Linked DNA regions of Homo sapiens. The protein of the gene in region 4 purifies or fractionates together with the protein of the main gene of each other region. This does not show direct contact. Each region holds a gene or a part of one and is shown on either strand. Other genes may lie near its edges.

Region 1 (3,500 bases), on a different chromosome or scaffold from region 4:
TGAATGACTCTATTTTCATAAAGTAATAGAACACTCACAACTATTCTCCAGTGATAGAAATCAGATCTGATAGAAATCAGATCCAGCTGATATGTATACAGTTTTCAGCGGTAGGGGAGAAGGTAGGCCTGAATAAAGGAATTATGATGAGACTTTTTGGGCTATAGAAATATTTTACTTCTTGATTGGGGTGGTATTCAAACAGGTATATACTTTTGAGTAACATCAATGAGCTATAAACTTAAAGTGGGAAATTCATTGTATTTTATGTAAATCATAATTTAATAAAATTGAGAAAGTGAATTAAATTAGAAATCAACAATATATCCAGAAATGCTCCAAAATGTAAAAATTAAACAATATACACTAAGGGCAGTGTTAAAATGTGGTTGCCTGGATGTTTAAGATCATACATACAGTTTAATTTGGAGGTATGAGCTTAACAATATAATTAATAATAATGAGAAAATTAACTAGTAAAGTTACACAAAAAATCATTTATATGCATATATACAGACACAAACACACATATATATATATACAATAATTACCAATTGAAGCTGAGCGCATTTGTCTCATGTGAGTTTCTATGACAGAAGGATCCCGAGAACTGTAACTTCCCAATTCAGGATAAAAGCTGGAGCCAATGTCATCTGGAGGGTTGTGTCTCCCTTGTGGATAATTCTTGGCTATTCTAGGGTCCCAATGCTCTAACACTGGATGATTCCAATGTATATATTTACCATCAAATTGTGGATTTCCATACCAACTGTAATAAAATACATGTAGATAATTGTTCAGAGGTGGTAGTTCATCCAAGTTAAGTTCAGAGGCTTTGGAAGGTTTCATAGTGATTTCAACACTTTTTAAATTCTTGGTATTTGTTTCACTGTTGATTCTGTCACTCTTTTGGAAATCAAAATTTTTCCCCAAATGAATAGTTCGTTGATGAAGTTCTGGAAGAAGGTCAAGTCCAAAAGGAGCTCCAAAAGTAGCTGTATTTGGTCTCAGCATTTTTAAACCCATCATCAGAGAGAAAATAAATAGAATAAAAAGTGCCAAAATGATGCAAGTCCTTCTCCGAAACTTTGCCATGATGACATACTTTAAACTCCAAAATAGTAAGTGTTTTGCTGCAATTTATTGAAAAAAGATAATTAGTAAGTGTTATCAACAGTATTTTCCAATATATTCAACACGAAAACTAAAATCCATAAATTTCATTACATTGAATAATTAATACTGATTTCATCACATATTGGTGAAATTAAGAAAGTGAAGACATTAATTATATCATCATATATAAATGTGTACAATAAGGGTCTATGGCTAGAATAAACGGCAATATTCATTTGGATATATCACCATGTACATGCCAATTACGTTTAGTCAGACGAACCTTTAGGAAATTTTATTTAAGAAATTAAAATATGTTTTTCATTACTTGAACAGATTACATGTATGCTGAATGTAGGAAGGGAACATTCTATGTATGTGAACTAAAATTCTGTTTAAAAATCATTTATTTATTTATTGTAGAGACAAGGTCTCACTATGTTGACCAGGCTGGTCTTGAACTCTTGGGCTCAAGCGATCCTCCTGTCTCAGCCTCCCACATTGCTAGGATTACAGGTATGAGTCACCACACACCTGGCCTGAACTAAAATTTTCTAAATCTAAGTGTAAAATTTACAAATCACAGTTAATAAAAAGGAAATACTTACTAGTGTATGAAAAACCCAGTCATTAAACAGATTTTCTAAAAAATTTTTAACTAACAATTTCATAAAAGGGAAAAATTACAAATTTTAAATAACATTTTGAAGTGAAATAGAATCAGACAAAATTTTTTAAATGACAGTAGAGAAAAAAAGAATAATCACAAGTAAGATATTCCCAATTTTTTCAAAAAATTCATTAGGCTGGGCATGATGGCTCATGCCTGTAATCCCAGCACTTTGGAAGGCTGAGGCAGGAAGATCACTTGAGTTCAGCAGTTTGAGACCAGCCTGGACAACCACGGGGAGACCCCATCCCTACACAAACTTTTAAAAAATTGGCTAGGCATGGTGGTGTGTGCCTGTAGTTCCCCAGCTACTCATGAGGCTGAGGCAGGTGGATTGCTTGAGCCCAGAAGGTCAAGGCTGCAGTGAGCCATGATTGTGCCACTGCACTCCAGCCTGGGTGACAGTGCAAGAAAACGTCTCCAAAAATAAAATTAACTTACGACTCTGAAAATCTTACTGAACAGAGGTTATAAACAGTAATTTATAACTTCTGAAAGGGTATTATATGTGTTTTTGTTTTAGTAAGTATGTTTATGGACATATATTAATGCAGTGCTTCTTGGCTGATTAAGAAAAGACATTATTGTTGTGTGTGTATATATATATATATATGAGTATAAGTATATAGGTACATATACACCATATGAATGAAATATTCAAGTCTTTTTATATACAGATTTCTTATTAGAAAGGTATTTGGCACAATGCTGACATTGACTGCTTTATAAAATGAGTTCTATGATACGGTGCTGTTATTATAGAGAATTAAGTTAAAAAAGACTTAACTCCAATAGAAAAGAAAGACAAGTGAAACTTCCTACAAACTGCTGCTTCTATTCTATCGGGGGAACCCATCCCCAATATTTCAACGTAGGTTCTTTCTATTTTCCATAAATGTCAACCAGTCTGAGAAATAAGAGAGAGAGTACAAAGAGAGGAATTTTACAGTTGGGCCACCGGGGGTGACATCACATATCGGTAGGACCATGATGCCCACCTGAGCCACAAAACCAGCAAATTTTATTAAGAATTTCAAAAGGGGAGGGGGTCCAAGAACAGGGAGTAACTCACAAGATCACATACTTCAAAGGGCAAAAAGGAGAACAAAGATCACATGCTTCTGGGGAAACAGGAGAAAAGGCAAAACAGAACTACTGGTAAGGGTCTATGTTCAGCTGTGCACCTACTGTCTTGATAAACATCTTAAACAACAGAAAACAGGGTTCGAGAGCAGAGAACCAGTCTGACCTCAAATTCACCAGGGTGGGGTACTGGAGGAGACCAGGGCGTATCTCAGTCCTTATCTCAACCGCATAGGACAGACACTCCCAGAGCGGCCGCTTATAGACCTCCCCCGAGGAATGCAATTCTTTTCCTAGGGTCTTAATATTAATGTTCCTTGCTAGGAAAAGAATTTAGTGATACCTCTCCTACTTGCACGTCCATTTATAGGCTCTCTGCAAGAAGAAAAATATGGCTCTTTTTGCCCGACCCCACAGGCAGTCAGACTTTATCGCTGTCTTAAAAATCGCTGTTACTCTGTTCTTTTTCAAGGTGCACTGATTTCATATTGTTCAAACACACGTTTTACAATCAATTTGTACAGTTAACACAATTATAGTGGTCCTGAGGTGACGTACATCCTCAGTTTACGAAGATAAGAGGATTAAGAGATTAAAGTAAGACAGGCATAAGAAATTATAAGAGTATTCT
Region 2 (4,260 bases), on a different chromosome or scaffold from region 4:
ATTAAAATTACATAAAGCCAGAAATGTAACTCCTCTGTCTCACTTGTTATATCTCCAAGGCTGGATAGCCACATGTGACTGGTGGTGGCTGGATTAGCTAGTGCATATAAAACATCACTGCAGAAAGTTCAGCTGAGCAGCACTGAGTTAGATGGCCTCTGAAGAGGATGTCCCACGGAGAGAATCCAGAACTCAGGATCTTTTTTTTTTTTTTTCTTTGCGACAGAGTCTTGCTCTGTCACCCAGGCTGGAGTGCAGTGGCGTGATCTCGGCTCACTGCAACTTCTGCCTCCCAGGTTCAAGCAATTCTCCTGCCTCAGCCTCCCTAGTAGCTGGGACTACAGGCCTGTGCCAACATCCCCAGCTAATTTTTGTGTCTTTTTAGTAGAGATGGGGTTTCACTATGTTGGCCAGGCTGGTCTCGAACTCCTGACCTCGTGATCCGCCCCCCCTTGGCCTCCCAAAGTGCTGGGATTACAGGCGTGAGCCACCGCGCCCGGCCAGCTCAGGATCTTTTGGGATGGTCTGTTCACCTCGCAGAAGTGGCTGGCATGAGCAATAGGAGCCCAGAGTGGAACCAGGGCCTTCTGGTTGTCAAGTGGACTTGCTGTGTGACCTCCTGTGAGTCTCTGCCCTCTCTGAGCCTCTCACTCCTCACCTGAGATGAGGGAGTTGGCTGAGGTGATGCCGATGCCCCTCACAGCTTTGACCTCCTATGATTCAGGGGCCTGTGTGTCACCTGGTGGCACACAGATGGCAGGGAGGGTGTGAGATGGCCACACATGGGTATGAGGCAGAGCCACAGCCCCCCCCAACACGCACATGGGCTAGTCACTGGGACACACACAGAGCTCACTCACGGCCACAGAGTGGGCGTGGGTTTCCCTTTTTCCTTGTTTCTGTTTCTCTTAGCCTCGGCGCCTCCCTCCCTCCCTCTCTCTCTCTCTCTCTCTCTCTCTCTCTCTCTCTCTGGCTCTTTTAGCCTTGGTTTGTTACAATCTCCCTTTTCAAGCCAGCCTCTGTCCCTCCTACTCAACCTGCTTTATCTCTAGGCCTTCCTCCTTCCTCTTCCACAGTCTGGCTTCTCACATTGTCACTCTAGGTATGCACTTCCCATTGATTTCCTCTTGCTCAGTGGCCTCTCATCCTGCCACCCCTAGCCTTGCTGGGGACGTGAACCCTCTCCCCGCGCCTGGGAAGCCTTCTTGGCACCGGGACCCGGAGAATCCCCACGGAAGCCAGTTCCAAAAGGGATGAAAAGGGGGCGTTTCGGGCACTGGGAGAAGCCTGTATTCCAGGGCCCCTCCCAGAGCAGGAATCTGGGACCCAGGAGTGCCAGCCTCACCCACGGTACAATTAGACAGAGGGAAAGGGAGGGAGCCCGGGGGTGGGGGTAGGGGAGGGTGGAGAAGCTTCCGGACTCCTTGGGGTTAAAAGGGAAGGTCCCGCCAGGGGTCCCTGGGCAGAGGATACCAGCGGCAGACCACAGGCAGGGCAGAGGCACGTCTGGGTCCCCTCCCTCCTTCCTATCGGCGACTCCCAGGTGAAGCTACCTGCACCCCACCCGGGTTGGGGTGGATTGCGAGAGGATGGGTGGGGACCCCCGGGCCACAGGCAGGAGCCGGCTTAGAGCCTCGGTTTCTCCACCTGCGGGACGCGGAAGTCCCCCCGCTGTGAGGTTGAGAAAGAGGCTCCCACTGGCTCCGAGCCTCGGATCCCCACCCCGCGCGTGAAGGAGGGGGAAACCTCGGGCGCGGCGTGGCTGCAGCCAGGGTAGCTGGGGCGCGGAGAGCGCTCCACTCGGGCACAGGGAGGACGGGAAGATGCCGCGAGGGGCGTCATTAGGGTAATTGTGCCCATTACCGCTGTTCCAGCCCGAATCTCCCGTCTGCCAGCCCCTGGGGTTATCGGCTGCAGGTCAAAAGGGTGCTTGCGGGCTGGGGTGGCCCAGGCTGGGCGGATGAGCGCGGCGAGGTGGGGGTCTCTAACGGAGCATCTGTTTTAACCCGCCCCTGCACACACCCCAGCAGATCCTGGCCATGAGAGCTCCGCACCTCCACCTCTCCGCCGCCTCTGGCGCCCGGGCTCTGGCGAAGCTGCTGCCGCTGCTGATGGCGCAACTCTGGGGTAAGGTCGGGGGCAGGGGGCGGGGAGAGGCGCCGGTGGGAGGCACGGGCGGGAGGAGAATGTGTTCCCGTCACCAAGCCCCGCGCACCTCTCCTCCCCCGAGACCCCAGCACCCACCCAGCGCTCCGGAGCACGGCCCGCCCCCAAGTCAGCTGGGCCCTTCTTCTGGCTCGGCCCCTGGGTGACCCGCCCCACTCAGGCCCTGTCCGATTTCTGCCACCCGGATCCTCGCTCTTCCGTGGACTCTTCGCCGCGTTCTTTCTCCTCCTCTTACGCCGCCCCATCCCGGCCCCGCTCCATTTTACACTACCGTGTTTTGTTTTGTTTGTTTGTTTGTTTGAGACGGAGTCTCGCTCTGTCGCCCAGGCTGGAGTGCAGTGACGCGATCTCGGCTCACTGCAAGCTCCGCCTCCCGGGTTCACACCATTCTCCTGCCTCAGCCTCCCGAGTAGCTGGGACTACAGGCGCCCGCCACCAAGCCCGGCTAGTTTTTTGTATTTTTAGTAGAGATGGGATTTCACCGTGGTCTCGATCTCCTGGCCTCGTGATCCGCCTGCCTCGGCCTCCCAAAGTGCTGGGATTACAAGCGTGAGCCACCGCTCCCGGCCACACCACCGTGTTTTATCCTGAGTCTTGCCTTACCGCTTTTTGCCCTCTCCCCTCACTTTTTTTCTTCCTCTTTCCCTTTCTCTCTCTTTTTTCTTTTTCTTTCTTTCTTTTCTTTCTTTCGTTCTTCTTTTCCTTCCTTCCTTTCCTTCCTTCCTTTCGTTTGTTTCTTCTTTCTTGTTTTACTTTCTCTCTTATTTTTTCTTCTTTCTTTCTTGTTTTTTTCTTTCTCTCTCTTTTTCTTTCCTTCTTTTTTTTTTTTTTTTTTTTTTGAGACAGGGCAGTGCTCTGTCTCCGTGGCTGGAGTACAGTGGCCCAATCAGAGCTCACTGCAGCCTCGACCTCCTGGGCTCAAGCGATACTCAGCCTCCAGAGTAGCTGGTACCACAGGCATGCACCACCACATCCGGCTTTTTTTTTTTTTTTTTTTTTTTTTGAGACAGGGTCTCACTCTGTCGCCCAGACTGGAGTGCAGTGGCCCAATCTCGGCTCATTGCAACCTCCACCTCCTGGGCTCAAGCGATCCTCCCACCTCAGCCTCCCAGGTAGCTGTGACTACAGGCGCATGCCTCCGCGACTACTTTTTTGTTGTTGTTGTTGTTGTTTGTTTGTTTTTGTAGAGACTGGGTCTTGCTGTGTTGCCCGGGCTGGTCTTGAATTCCCGAGCTCAAGCGGTCCAACCGCCTCGGCTTCCCAAAGTGCTGGGATTACAGGCGTAAACCACTGCGCCCCACCCCTCTCCTGGTTTTCAATCCCGTTTTGTTATTCACACCCCTTCCTCTCCCCGATCCCCGAGTTCTATCCCCGCACCCTTACCTCCCCGCCGCGTTCAATCCCCGCCCCTCTATCGACCAGCGACGTTCTAGCCAGCTCTCCAGGCGCGCTGCGTTCAGTCCCTGCCCTCCAGACCCACCCTATTCTGTCTCATTACTCCACGCTACCCTATCCCAGCTTCCTTCCACTTTCACGCGCTTCTTCTCCTCCCATTCCCTTCGGTGCACGCGAAACCCCCAATATTTCCCTACCACCCTCGCGTTCTGGCTGCGTCCCCCGTCCCCGAACGCAGTCCAGTGCCACAGCCCAGCTCCAACCCCAAACCCAGACCCTGCCCTCCGTGCTTTGATTCCGTCCCCTTTCTTTCTCCAGCCGCAGAGGCGGCGCTGCTCCCCCAAAACGACACGCGCTTGGACCCCGAAGCCTATGGCTCCCCGTGCGCGCGCGGCTCGCAGCCCTGGCAGGTCTCGCTCTTCAACGGCCTCTCGTTCCACTGCGCGGGTGTCCTGGTGGACCAGAGTTGGGTGCTGACGGCCGCGCACTGCGGAAACAAGTAGGAGGAGATCCATCCCCGAGGACGCCACGGGGGGCTGTGGAGGCGGCCTCCAGGGAGGAGCGGGCAGGGCGGGGTCTCTCGGAACTCCCACAGCTGGAGGTGCGGTCCCCGGTGTCCTTCCAGCAGGAGGAGAGACCGGGCTTGCGCTGTGGCCGCCAGGGGGCGGTGTGGTCCTTTTCCGCATTTCTGGGCCCGTC
Region 3 (3,500 bases), on a different chromosome or scaffold from region 4:
TCCTGTTTCCTAAAGTTTTCGTATTCTCAATTTCATCAGCAGGCGGTGGTCATCCAGAGGCTTTTGAGTCATCAACTCCTTTACATCAAGCAGAGGATTCTCAGGTCCGCCAGTACTTCCCAGAGACCTGGCTCTGGGATCTGTTTCCTATTGGGTAAGTGATGACTCAAAAGTACAGTAAAGGGCCAGGTGCATGGCTCACGCCTGTAATCCCAACACTTTGGGAGGCTTAGGAGGGAGGATCACTTGAGACCAGGAGTTCAAGACCAGCCTGGGCAACATAATGAGCTTCTGTCTCTACAAAAGAAATTAAAAAAATAGCCAGATGGTAGTTGTGTCCTACTTGGAAGGCTGAGGTGGAAGGATCACTTGAGTCTGGGAGGTGGAGGCTGCAGTGAAGCAAGATCACATTGCTTCACTCCTGCTTGGGTGACAGAGCAAAACCCTTCTCAAAATCAACAACGACAACGACAACAACAAACCCAGAAAAAAAACAGTAAGATTCTGCAATGTAGAGCCTGTAGAAAACTCAGAATCAGACGCATTCCTAATGGATCTAAATCTTAAGCAAAGAAAGCTTGATGGGGTGTGGGAATTTATTTATTTTCCGGAATTCTTTTTTTCTTTTTATTTTTAAGACAGAGTCTTGCTCTGTCACCCAGGCTGGAGTGCAGTGGCATGATTTTGGCTCACTGTAGGCCTCAACCTCCTAGGTTCAAGCAATTCTTGTGCCTCAGCCTCCCAAGTAGCTGGGACTATAGGCACATGCCACCACACCTGGCTAAGTTTTGTATTTTTAGTAGAGGCAGGGTTTTGCTATGTTGGCCAGGCTAGTCTTGAACTCCTGGCCTCAAGTGATCCACCCGCCTTGGCCTCCCAAAGTGTTGGGATTACAGGTGTGAGCCACTGCGCCCGGCCTACCTGAATTCTTCATGCATTCATATACAACCACTCAAAACAAATCCACACAATTCCACACTCACACATTGCAGGCCCTGTGTTCTCACTACAGAACCACACACATTTAAAGGTATATATTGACATCAATTTTTGCTCACTGCTTGCATATCCATTTTGACAAGCCCTGAGACCACACATCCTCAGACTCAGAGGGCACCAGCCTCTCTGTCAGATGTGCTTGCACAGAGATGCCCACCCCGACTCCCCACCATAGTCCCCCTCCTCCGTATGAGTGCAGCCTCACTCACACTGAGACTCACCTGTTCAGTTGCCTCTTTACTTCTCCCCATACAATAACAATAACAATTTTACTTCTGCAGATGAATTTGTAGCTTTTTTTTTTTGGACAGGGTCTTGCCCTGTCACCCAGGCTGGAGTGCAGTGGTGCAATCATAGCTCACTGCAGCCTCAAACTCCTGGGCTCAAGCAATCCTCCTGCCTCAGCCTCCTAAGTAGCTGGGACTATAGGCATGCACCACCACACCTGGCTAATTTTTAAATTTTTGGTAGAAATAGGGTCTTGCTATGTTTCCCAGGCTGGCCTCAAACTGCTGGGCTGAAGCTATCTGCTCACCTCAGCCTCTCAAAGAGCTGGGATTACAAGTGTAAGCCAGCACACCCCACCGAATTTGTGGCTTAATTCACAAATGTTCTCCTTGCCCCACGCTACCTCTGCCTCATGTTGGTCCTTGTGTTTTCACAGTAACTCGGGGAAGGAGGCGGTCCACGTCACAGTTCCTGACGCCATCACCGAGTGGAAGGCGATGAGTTTCTGCACTTCCCAGTCAAGAGGCTTCGGGCTTTCACCCACTGTTGGACTAACTGCTTTCAAGCCGTTCTTTGTTGACCTGACTCTCCCTTACTCAGTAGTCCGTGGGGAATCCTTTCGTCTTACTGCCACCATCTTCAATTACCTAAAGGATTGCATCAGGGTGAGAGCTGGGGATACAGGAATCAGGTGTCAGCCCTGGAATCACACCTCCCCCATAAGTTTGTCTCTAAATTGGAAGCATCCCAATTTTCCCTGGGAAAGAGAGGAGATGTCGGCGTCTCAGCCCCCAGGTTTCCCCAGGCCTCTATGCACTACCTCCTTTGTTTGTACCCTTTGTCTCTTAAACATCCTCCGTAGGTTCAGACTGACCTGGCTAAATCGCATGAGTACCAGCTAGAATCATGGGCAGATTCTCAGACCTCCAGTTGTCTCTGTGCTGATGACGCAAAAACCCACCACTGGAACATCACAGCTGTCAAATTGGGTAAGAGAGGGAAGTGGTAGACGGGCGAGGAAAGCCAGCAGCAGAAGACCAGTGACTGAGCACTCAGTCTTTTCCTCTGCCACATCTGCTTTGCTTCCTCCTCCATTTTCCACTATTTTTCTCCCTCCTAAGGCTGTTATAAGTCAATACACAAACACTCTTTGATAGGTGACCAAACAAATTTGTTCAAACCGGAATATTTTGAGTGTGAAAGGGAGAGCTTTTAATATTTATAGCTGGACAAGGAATACATGGTCATGTAACTAATCAAGGACTTACTATAAGAGTCCCTGGGCCAGGCACTATTCTAACTGCTTTACATATATTAACTCATTAAATTGATTGACTAATTAATTTTTATTTTATTTATTTATTTTTGAGAGGAAGTCTCGCTCTGTTGCGCAGGCTGGAGTGCAGTGGTGCAATCTGTGCTTACTGCAACCTCCACCTCCTGGGTTCAAGTGATTCTCCTGCCAAGCCTCCCAAGTAGCTAGGATTACAGTCGCGTGCCACCCTACCCGGCTAATTTTTGTACTTTTAGTAGAGGTGGGGTTTTGCCATGTTGGCCAGGCTGGTCTCAAACTCCTGACCTCAGGTGACCTGCCTGCCTCGGCCTCCCAAAGTGCTGGGATTACAGGCGTGAGCCGCTGCGCCTGGCCTTTTATTTTTTTTTAGAGAGACAAGATCTTACTCTGTCACCTAAGCTGGAGTACAGTGGTGTGGTCATTGCTCACTGCAGCCTCAACCTCCCAGGCTCAAGCGATCCTCTCACCTAGGCCTCCGGAGTAGCTGGGACTATAGGCTCATGCCACCACCATGCCTGGCTAATTCAGTTGGCAGAGAAGCGGTCTTGCTCTGTTGCCCAGGCTGTTCTCAAACTCCTGGGTTCAAGTGATTCTCCCGCCTCACCCTTCCAAAGTACTGGGATTACAAGAATGAGTCACTGCACCTTTAACTTGTTTAATCCTCACCCCCAACCCTATGGGATGTCAGTCACTCATAGATTAAATCCTTGCAACTCAAAGTTTGATTTTCATATGTATGAGTTATCTCATGTTGCTTGACAAATTATTGTAAAACTTAAGTGTCATAAAAGGACAAACATTATCAAACAGATTCTATGGGTCATTAATCTGGGTGCAGCTTAGCTGGGTACCTCTGGCTCAAGGTATCTCATGAGGTTGCAATCAAGCTGTCAGTCAGGACTCTGGTTTCATCTGAAGACTCGACTAGGAGAGGATTGATTTTTCAAGCTCATCCCAAAGTCTCTGATCCTTACAGGCT
Region 4 (4,258 bases):
AGGCCTGGTGGTGACAAAATCTCTCAGCATTTGCTTGTCTGTAAAGGATTTTATTTCTCTTTCACTTATGAAGCTTAGTTTGGCTGGATATGAAATTCTGGATTGAAAATTCTTTCCTTTAGGAATGTTGAGTTTTGGTCCCCACTGTCTTCTGGTTTGTTGGGTCTCTAAAGAGAGGTCTGCTGTTAGTCTGATGAACTTCTTTTCGTGTGTAACAGGACCTTTCTCTCTGGCTGCCCTTAACATTTTTCCTTCATTTCAACGTTGGTGAATCTGATGATTATGTGTCTTGGAGTTGCTTTTCTCGAGGAGTATCTTTATGGTGTTCTCTGTGTTTCCTGAATTTGAATGTTGGCCTGTCTTGCTAGGCTGGGGAAGTTCTCCTGAATAATATCCTGAAGAGGGTTTTTGGCATTTTTTAAAAAATTATACTTTAAGAGATCTGGGATACATGTACTGTCGTATACTTTTAAACAATCAAATCTCATGAGAAATCACTCACAATTGGGAGGGCAGTGCCAAGCCATTCATGAGGGATCCATGCCCATGACCCAAACACCTCCCACCATGCTTCATCTCCAACACTGGGGATTATATTTGACCATGATATATGGAGGGGACAAACATACAAACTACGTCAAAGGCAAAGCATGGCTACTGTGAAAGAAGGGTAAAAACACAGAGATGGCATCACCTCTGACTTCCAGGAGTCCTCAGCAGACTGAGGGAGACAAGTACATATTTTCCTGAAAGAGGTCACTGGAGTGATGGTGTGTTTAGAATATAGAAGTAGAGCAGTCACAGAGAGGCAGCCCAGCAGAGTGTTCGCACAAGGACTGGGCCAGCAACTCCCCACTGCATGCAACGTATCTGAGGAAAGTCATTAAAATAGGTGATGGTCACTTTCCATCAAGTCCCTGGTATGGTCCATGGAGGCAGGGTTGTCAATCTCATTTTGGCATTTCAGAGGCCTCTCAGGGTTTGGATATGGAAGAAGACAACCAGCAATGATTATGCATTGCAGAGATGCAGGTGAGCCCCAGTTTCTTGCCAGTTGGGAGGTCAGTGCTAAGAGCCTTGCTGTCTTTCCCTGGAACATGAGATGCCAATTTCTTTCTGGACAGAGAGTATTTGGTTGGCTAAAGTCAAAATCTAAATTTTGCTTTGGGATAAATTCCAAAAATATTAGCATTATTCAAATTTACTTTCACTTTATCTTTCCGAATCTTCAAGGTCCAAAAGCATTGCTGAATAATTCTGTTTCTAAACTCACTTGCAGCGTGCTCTCCCTCCAAGGCGAAGACCATAATCTACTCTTGTCTGGAAATCATACAAGTAGGTATCTCAGCAAATGATACTCGTGTGTTATCGTTCTTATGAGTAAATCATTGGCAGTGAGTGTGATTTTTTTTTTTTTATGAAAGGATAAATACACGCCCTCTATTGGGGTCAGGTTTTGTGCCTGTACTTCTTCCGCCTACTGTATCATAGCAGCTTAGAATCCCAGCTGCTGGCTCGGGCTGCAGTTCTCTCATGGCTCGCGCAGGGTGGACCAGCCCCGTTCCTTTATGTGTGTGTCTACTGCTGACCTGTGGCTTTGCCGAGGCAGGGAAGCTGCTGGTAGTGCCCATGGATGGGAGTCACTGGTTCACCATGCAGTCGGTGGTGGAGAAACTTATCCTCAGGGGGCATGAGGTGGTTGTAGTCATGCCAGAGGTGAGTTGGCAACTGGAAAGATCACTGAATTGCACAGTGAAGACTTACTCAACCTCGTACACTCTGGAAGATCAGAACCGGGAATTCATGGTTTTCGCCCATGCTCAATGGAAAGCACAGGCACAAAGTATATTTTCTCTATTAATGAGTTCATCCAGTGGTTTTCTTGACTTATTTTTTTCGCATTGCAGGAGTTTGTTTAATGACCGAAAATTAGTAGAATACTTAAAGGAGAGTTCTTTTGATGCAGTGTTTCTGGATCCTTTTGATACCTGTGGCTTAATTGTTGCTAAATATTTCTCCCTCCCCTCTGTGGTCTTCACCAGGGGAATATTTTGCCACCATCTTGAAGAAGGTGCACAGTGCCCTGCTCCTCTTTCCTATGTCCCCAATGATCTCTTAGGGTTCTCAGATGCCATGACTTTCAAGGAGAGAGTATGGAACCACATCGTGCACTTGGAGGACCATTTATTTTGCCAGTATCTTTTTAGAAATGCCCTAGAAATAGCCTCTGAAATTCTCCAAACCCCTGTCACGGCATATGATCTCTACAGTCACACATCAATTTGGTTGTTGCGAACGGACTTTGTTTTGGACTATCCCAAACCCGTGATGCCCAACATGATCTTCATTGGTGGTATCAACTGTCATCAGGGAAAGCCATTGCCTATGGTAAGTCACCTCTCCTTTAGCACATTAAGAATAATCTGGCTTTGGAAATTAAAAAAGGATTCCTTACTGAACTGTGATTTGACATTTTCGTTTGTTGCATTTCAAATTTCTTTCCAGTTTAACAAATTATTTTGTGCGAATTCATGTACTCATCAATTATCAAATTTTATAAAACTGCCCTTCTTGAAAGTATATGTAATAATTTAAAAATTATAGATCATATTCAGGCTACATTTTAAAATACGATGTTTAGAAAAGTACCAAAAACCACAGCAAGAAATGAAACTTCCGTTTTTTGTTAATTCTATGTGACCCCGTAGTTGAAATGCTCTTAAGTTTTGTGTACATTCTTTTCATTGAAAAAAAGTATTTTAGGCATATGCAATATCTCATGTAAGTTCCCATACCTATTTAGTAAAAATAAAATCTAGTATTGGGCTGAACATATTCTTCTTTATCTTGCATTTTTCACTTGCCAATAAATTATGGGTACCTTTATAGAGCAATACAGACAGATTTGACAAGTTCTTTTAATAATTGCATAAAATTCTTTACTTTGGATACAATGTAGTTTTTTAACCAATTAATATTGATATATATATAGCCATTTTCCACTCTTTCCTTTTGTGAATAAGGCTGTGTAAACACTCTTCAATACTTTCCTTGCGTGAATATATTTCTATATTCTTGCTTTTATCTTAGTAGACTAGAGTCCTACACGTAGGGTTACAGGGTTTTCCTGAATTGAGAAGACTGGCATCTTTTTGCTATTAAGTCTTCCTGTTCAGGAACATATATGTCTCACTATTTATTCAGATCTTGTTTTATATACATAAATAAAAATTTTCACTATATAAGCATTTTATGTTTGTTTTTAACATTTATTCCTTGGCATTTTATTACTTTAGAAACTATTTTGTACAGGGCAATGTTTCCATTTCTACATTTAACTGATTACTGGTAATTAAAATTTTGGTTTTTGCATATGTATCTTGTATCCAGCCACATCACTAACTTTTCTTATTATTTTGTAGTATGCATTAGATGTACAATATACAATACCATCTGCAAGTAATTCCCTTGTCTGATATTTGTACTGCTTCTTTTGCTTTGCTGGAGCATATACTTCCAAAATATTATTGAGTAATATTGTTAGAGTAGCCAGTTTAAATAGGGATTCGGTTGCTTGTGACTGAAAAATCCTTGAAAAATACCAGAATAAGATTCTTGGCAAACGCATAGTTGCTAAATCCAGATGAAACACCTGGTGTCTCATCTCATTATATTATTTTATTAGGGGTGGAGTACACATTTTTATGTATTGTTCTGGTTTCTTACAAGATTCAGTAGACTTTGTAACACAGTTATATCTGTCATTGGCAGATGGTTGGTGAAAGAGTGACCGTTCAGCCATCTCATAGGAAAGTGAAATAATGCTCTTTCTAAAAAGCAGGAAGACTACAGTTGTAGGCCTTTCAAAATTAGGCATGACTTTCAGCTCATGGCAAGACCAGGCGAGGAGATGCAAGTTGCAGGACTCTAAGAGGTTGGACTTATCAAAGCACTTTTCTCCTCGTTATCCTCCATTAATTACAGTACCAAGCACCACCCATGTGTTGCCTACACCCCACAGCCTTCGGCCGAGTTGAGGATCTGCCACTTCCTGAACCCACGCTGAGTTTATTGTGGCTCACAGGGTCACCTAGAGGCCTTTAAAGATATAAAAACCTATATATGATTTTATATCACCTGTGATAGAGGGATATCTATAAAAAATGAAACATTAAACTATATATGGTTTCATTTATTTTGATTGTAAATATCTTTTATGAGATATGAAATAAATGTGTTTCTATATCTATTAAAGAAT

What was found. Proteins that work in one complex are often made in the same cells at the same time.
Region 1: the proteins of UGT1A10 (region 4) and MANEA purify together in Homo sapiens (affinity purification with mass spectrometry; 2 studies listed by BioGRID and IntAct, with this or other methods). This does not show direct contact.
Region 2: the proteins of UGT1A10 (region 4) and KLK10 purify together in Homo sapiens (affinity purification with mass spectrometry; 3 studies listed by BioGRID and IntAct, with this or other methods). This does not show direct contact.
Region 3: the proteins of UGT1A10 (region 4) and A2ML1 purify together in Homo sapiens (affinity purification with mass spectrometry; 3 studies listed by BioGRID and IntAct, with this or other methods). This does not show direct contact.

What each region holds. Positions count from the first base shown.
Region 1 is NC_000006.12:95,584,035-95,587,534, reverse strand, and holds part of MANEA (glycoprotein endo-alpha-1,2-mannosidase), read right to left. Parts: intron 1,134-3,500; 5' UTR 1,096-1,133; coding exon 552-1,095; intron 1-551.
Region 2 is NC_000019.10:51,016,910-51,021,169, reverse strand, and holds the start of KLK10 (kallikrein-10 preproprotein), read left to right. Parts: upstream 1-1,460; 5' UTR 1,461-1,543; intron 1,544-1,798; exon of another isoform or gene 1,799-1,917; intron 1,918-2,027; exon of another isoform or gene 2,028-2,030; 5' UTR 2,031-2,039; coding exon 2,040-2,127; intron 2,128-3,879; coding exon 3,880-4,060; intron 4,061-4,260. UniProt on the Homo sapiens protein: Has a tumor-suppressor role for NES1 in breast and prostate cancer.
Region 3 is NC_000012.12:8,850,121-8,853,620, forward strand, and holds part of A2ML1 (alpha-2-macroglobulin-like protein 1 isoform 1 precursor), read left to right. Parts: intron 1-39; coding exon 40-154; intron 155-1,663; coding exon 1,664-1,892; intron 1,893-2,089; coding exon 2,090-2,216; intron 2,217-3,500. UniProt on the Homo sapiens protein: Is able to inhibit all four classes of proteinases by a unique 'trapping' mechanism. This protein has a peptide stretch, called the 'bait region' which contains specific cleavage sites for different proteinases.
Region 4 is NC_000002.12:233,634,990-233,639,247, forward strand, and holds the start of UGT1A10 (UDP-glucuronosyltransferase 1A10 precursor), read left to right. Parts: upstream 1-1,458; 5' UTR 1,459-1,533; coding exon 1,534-2,388; intron 2,389-4,258.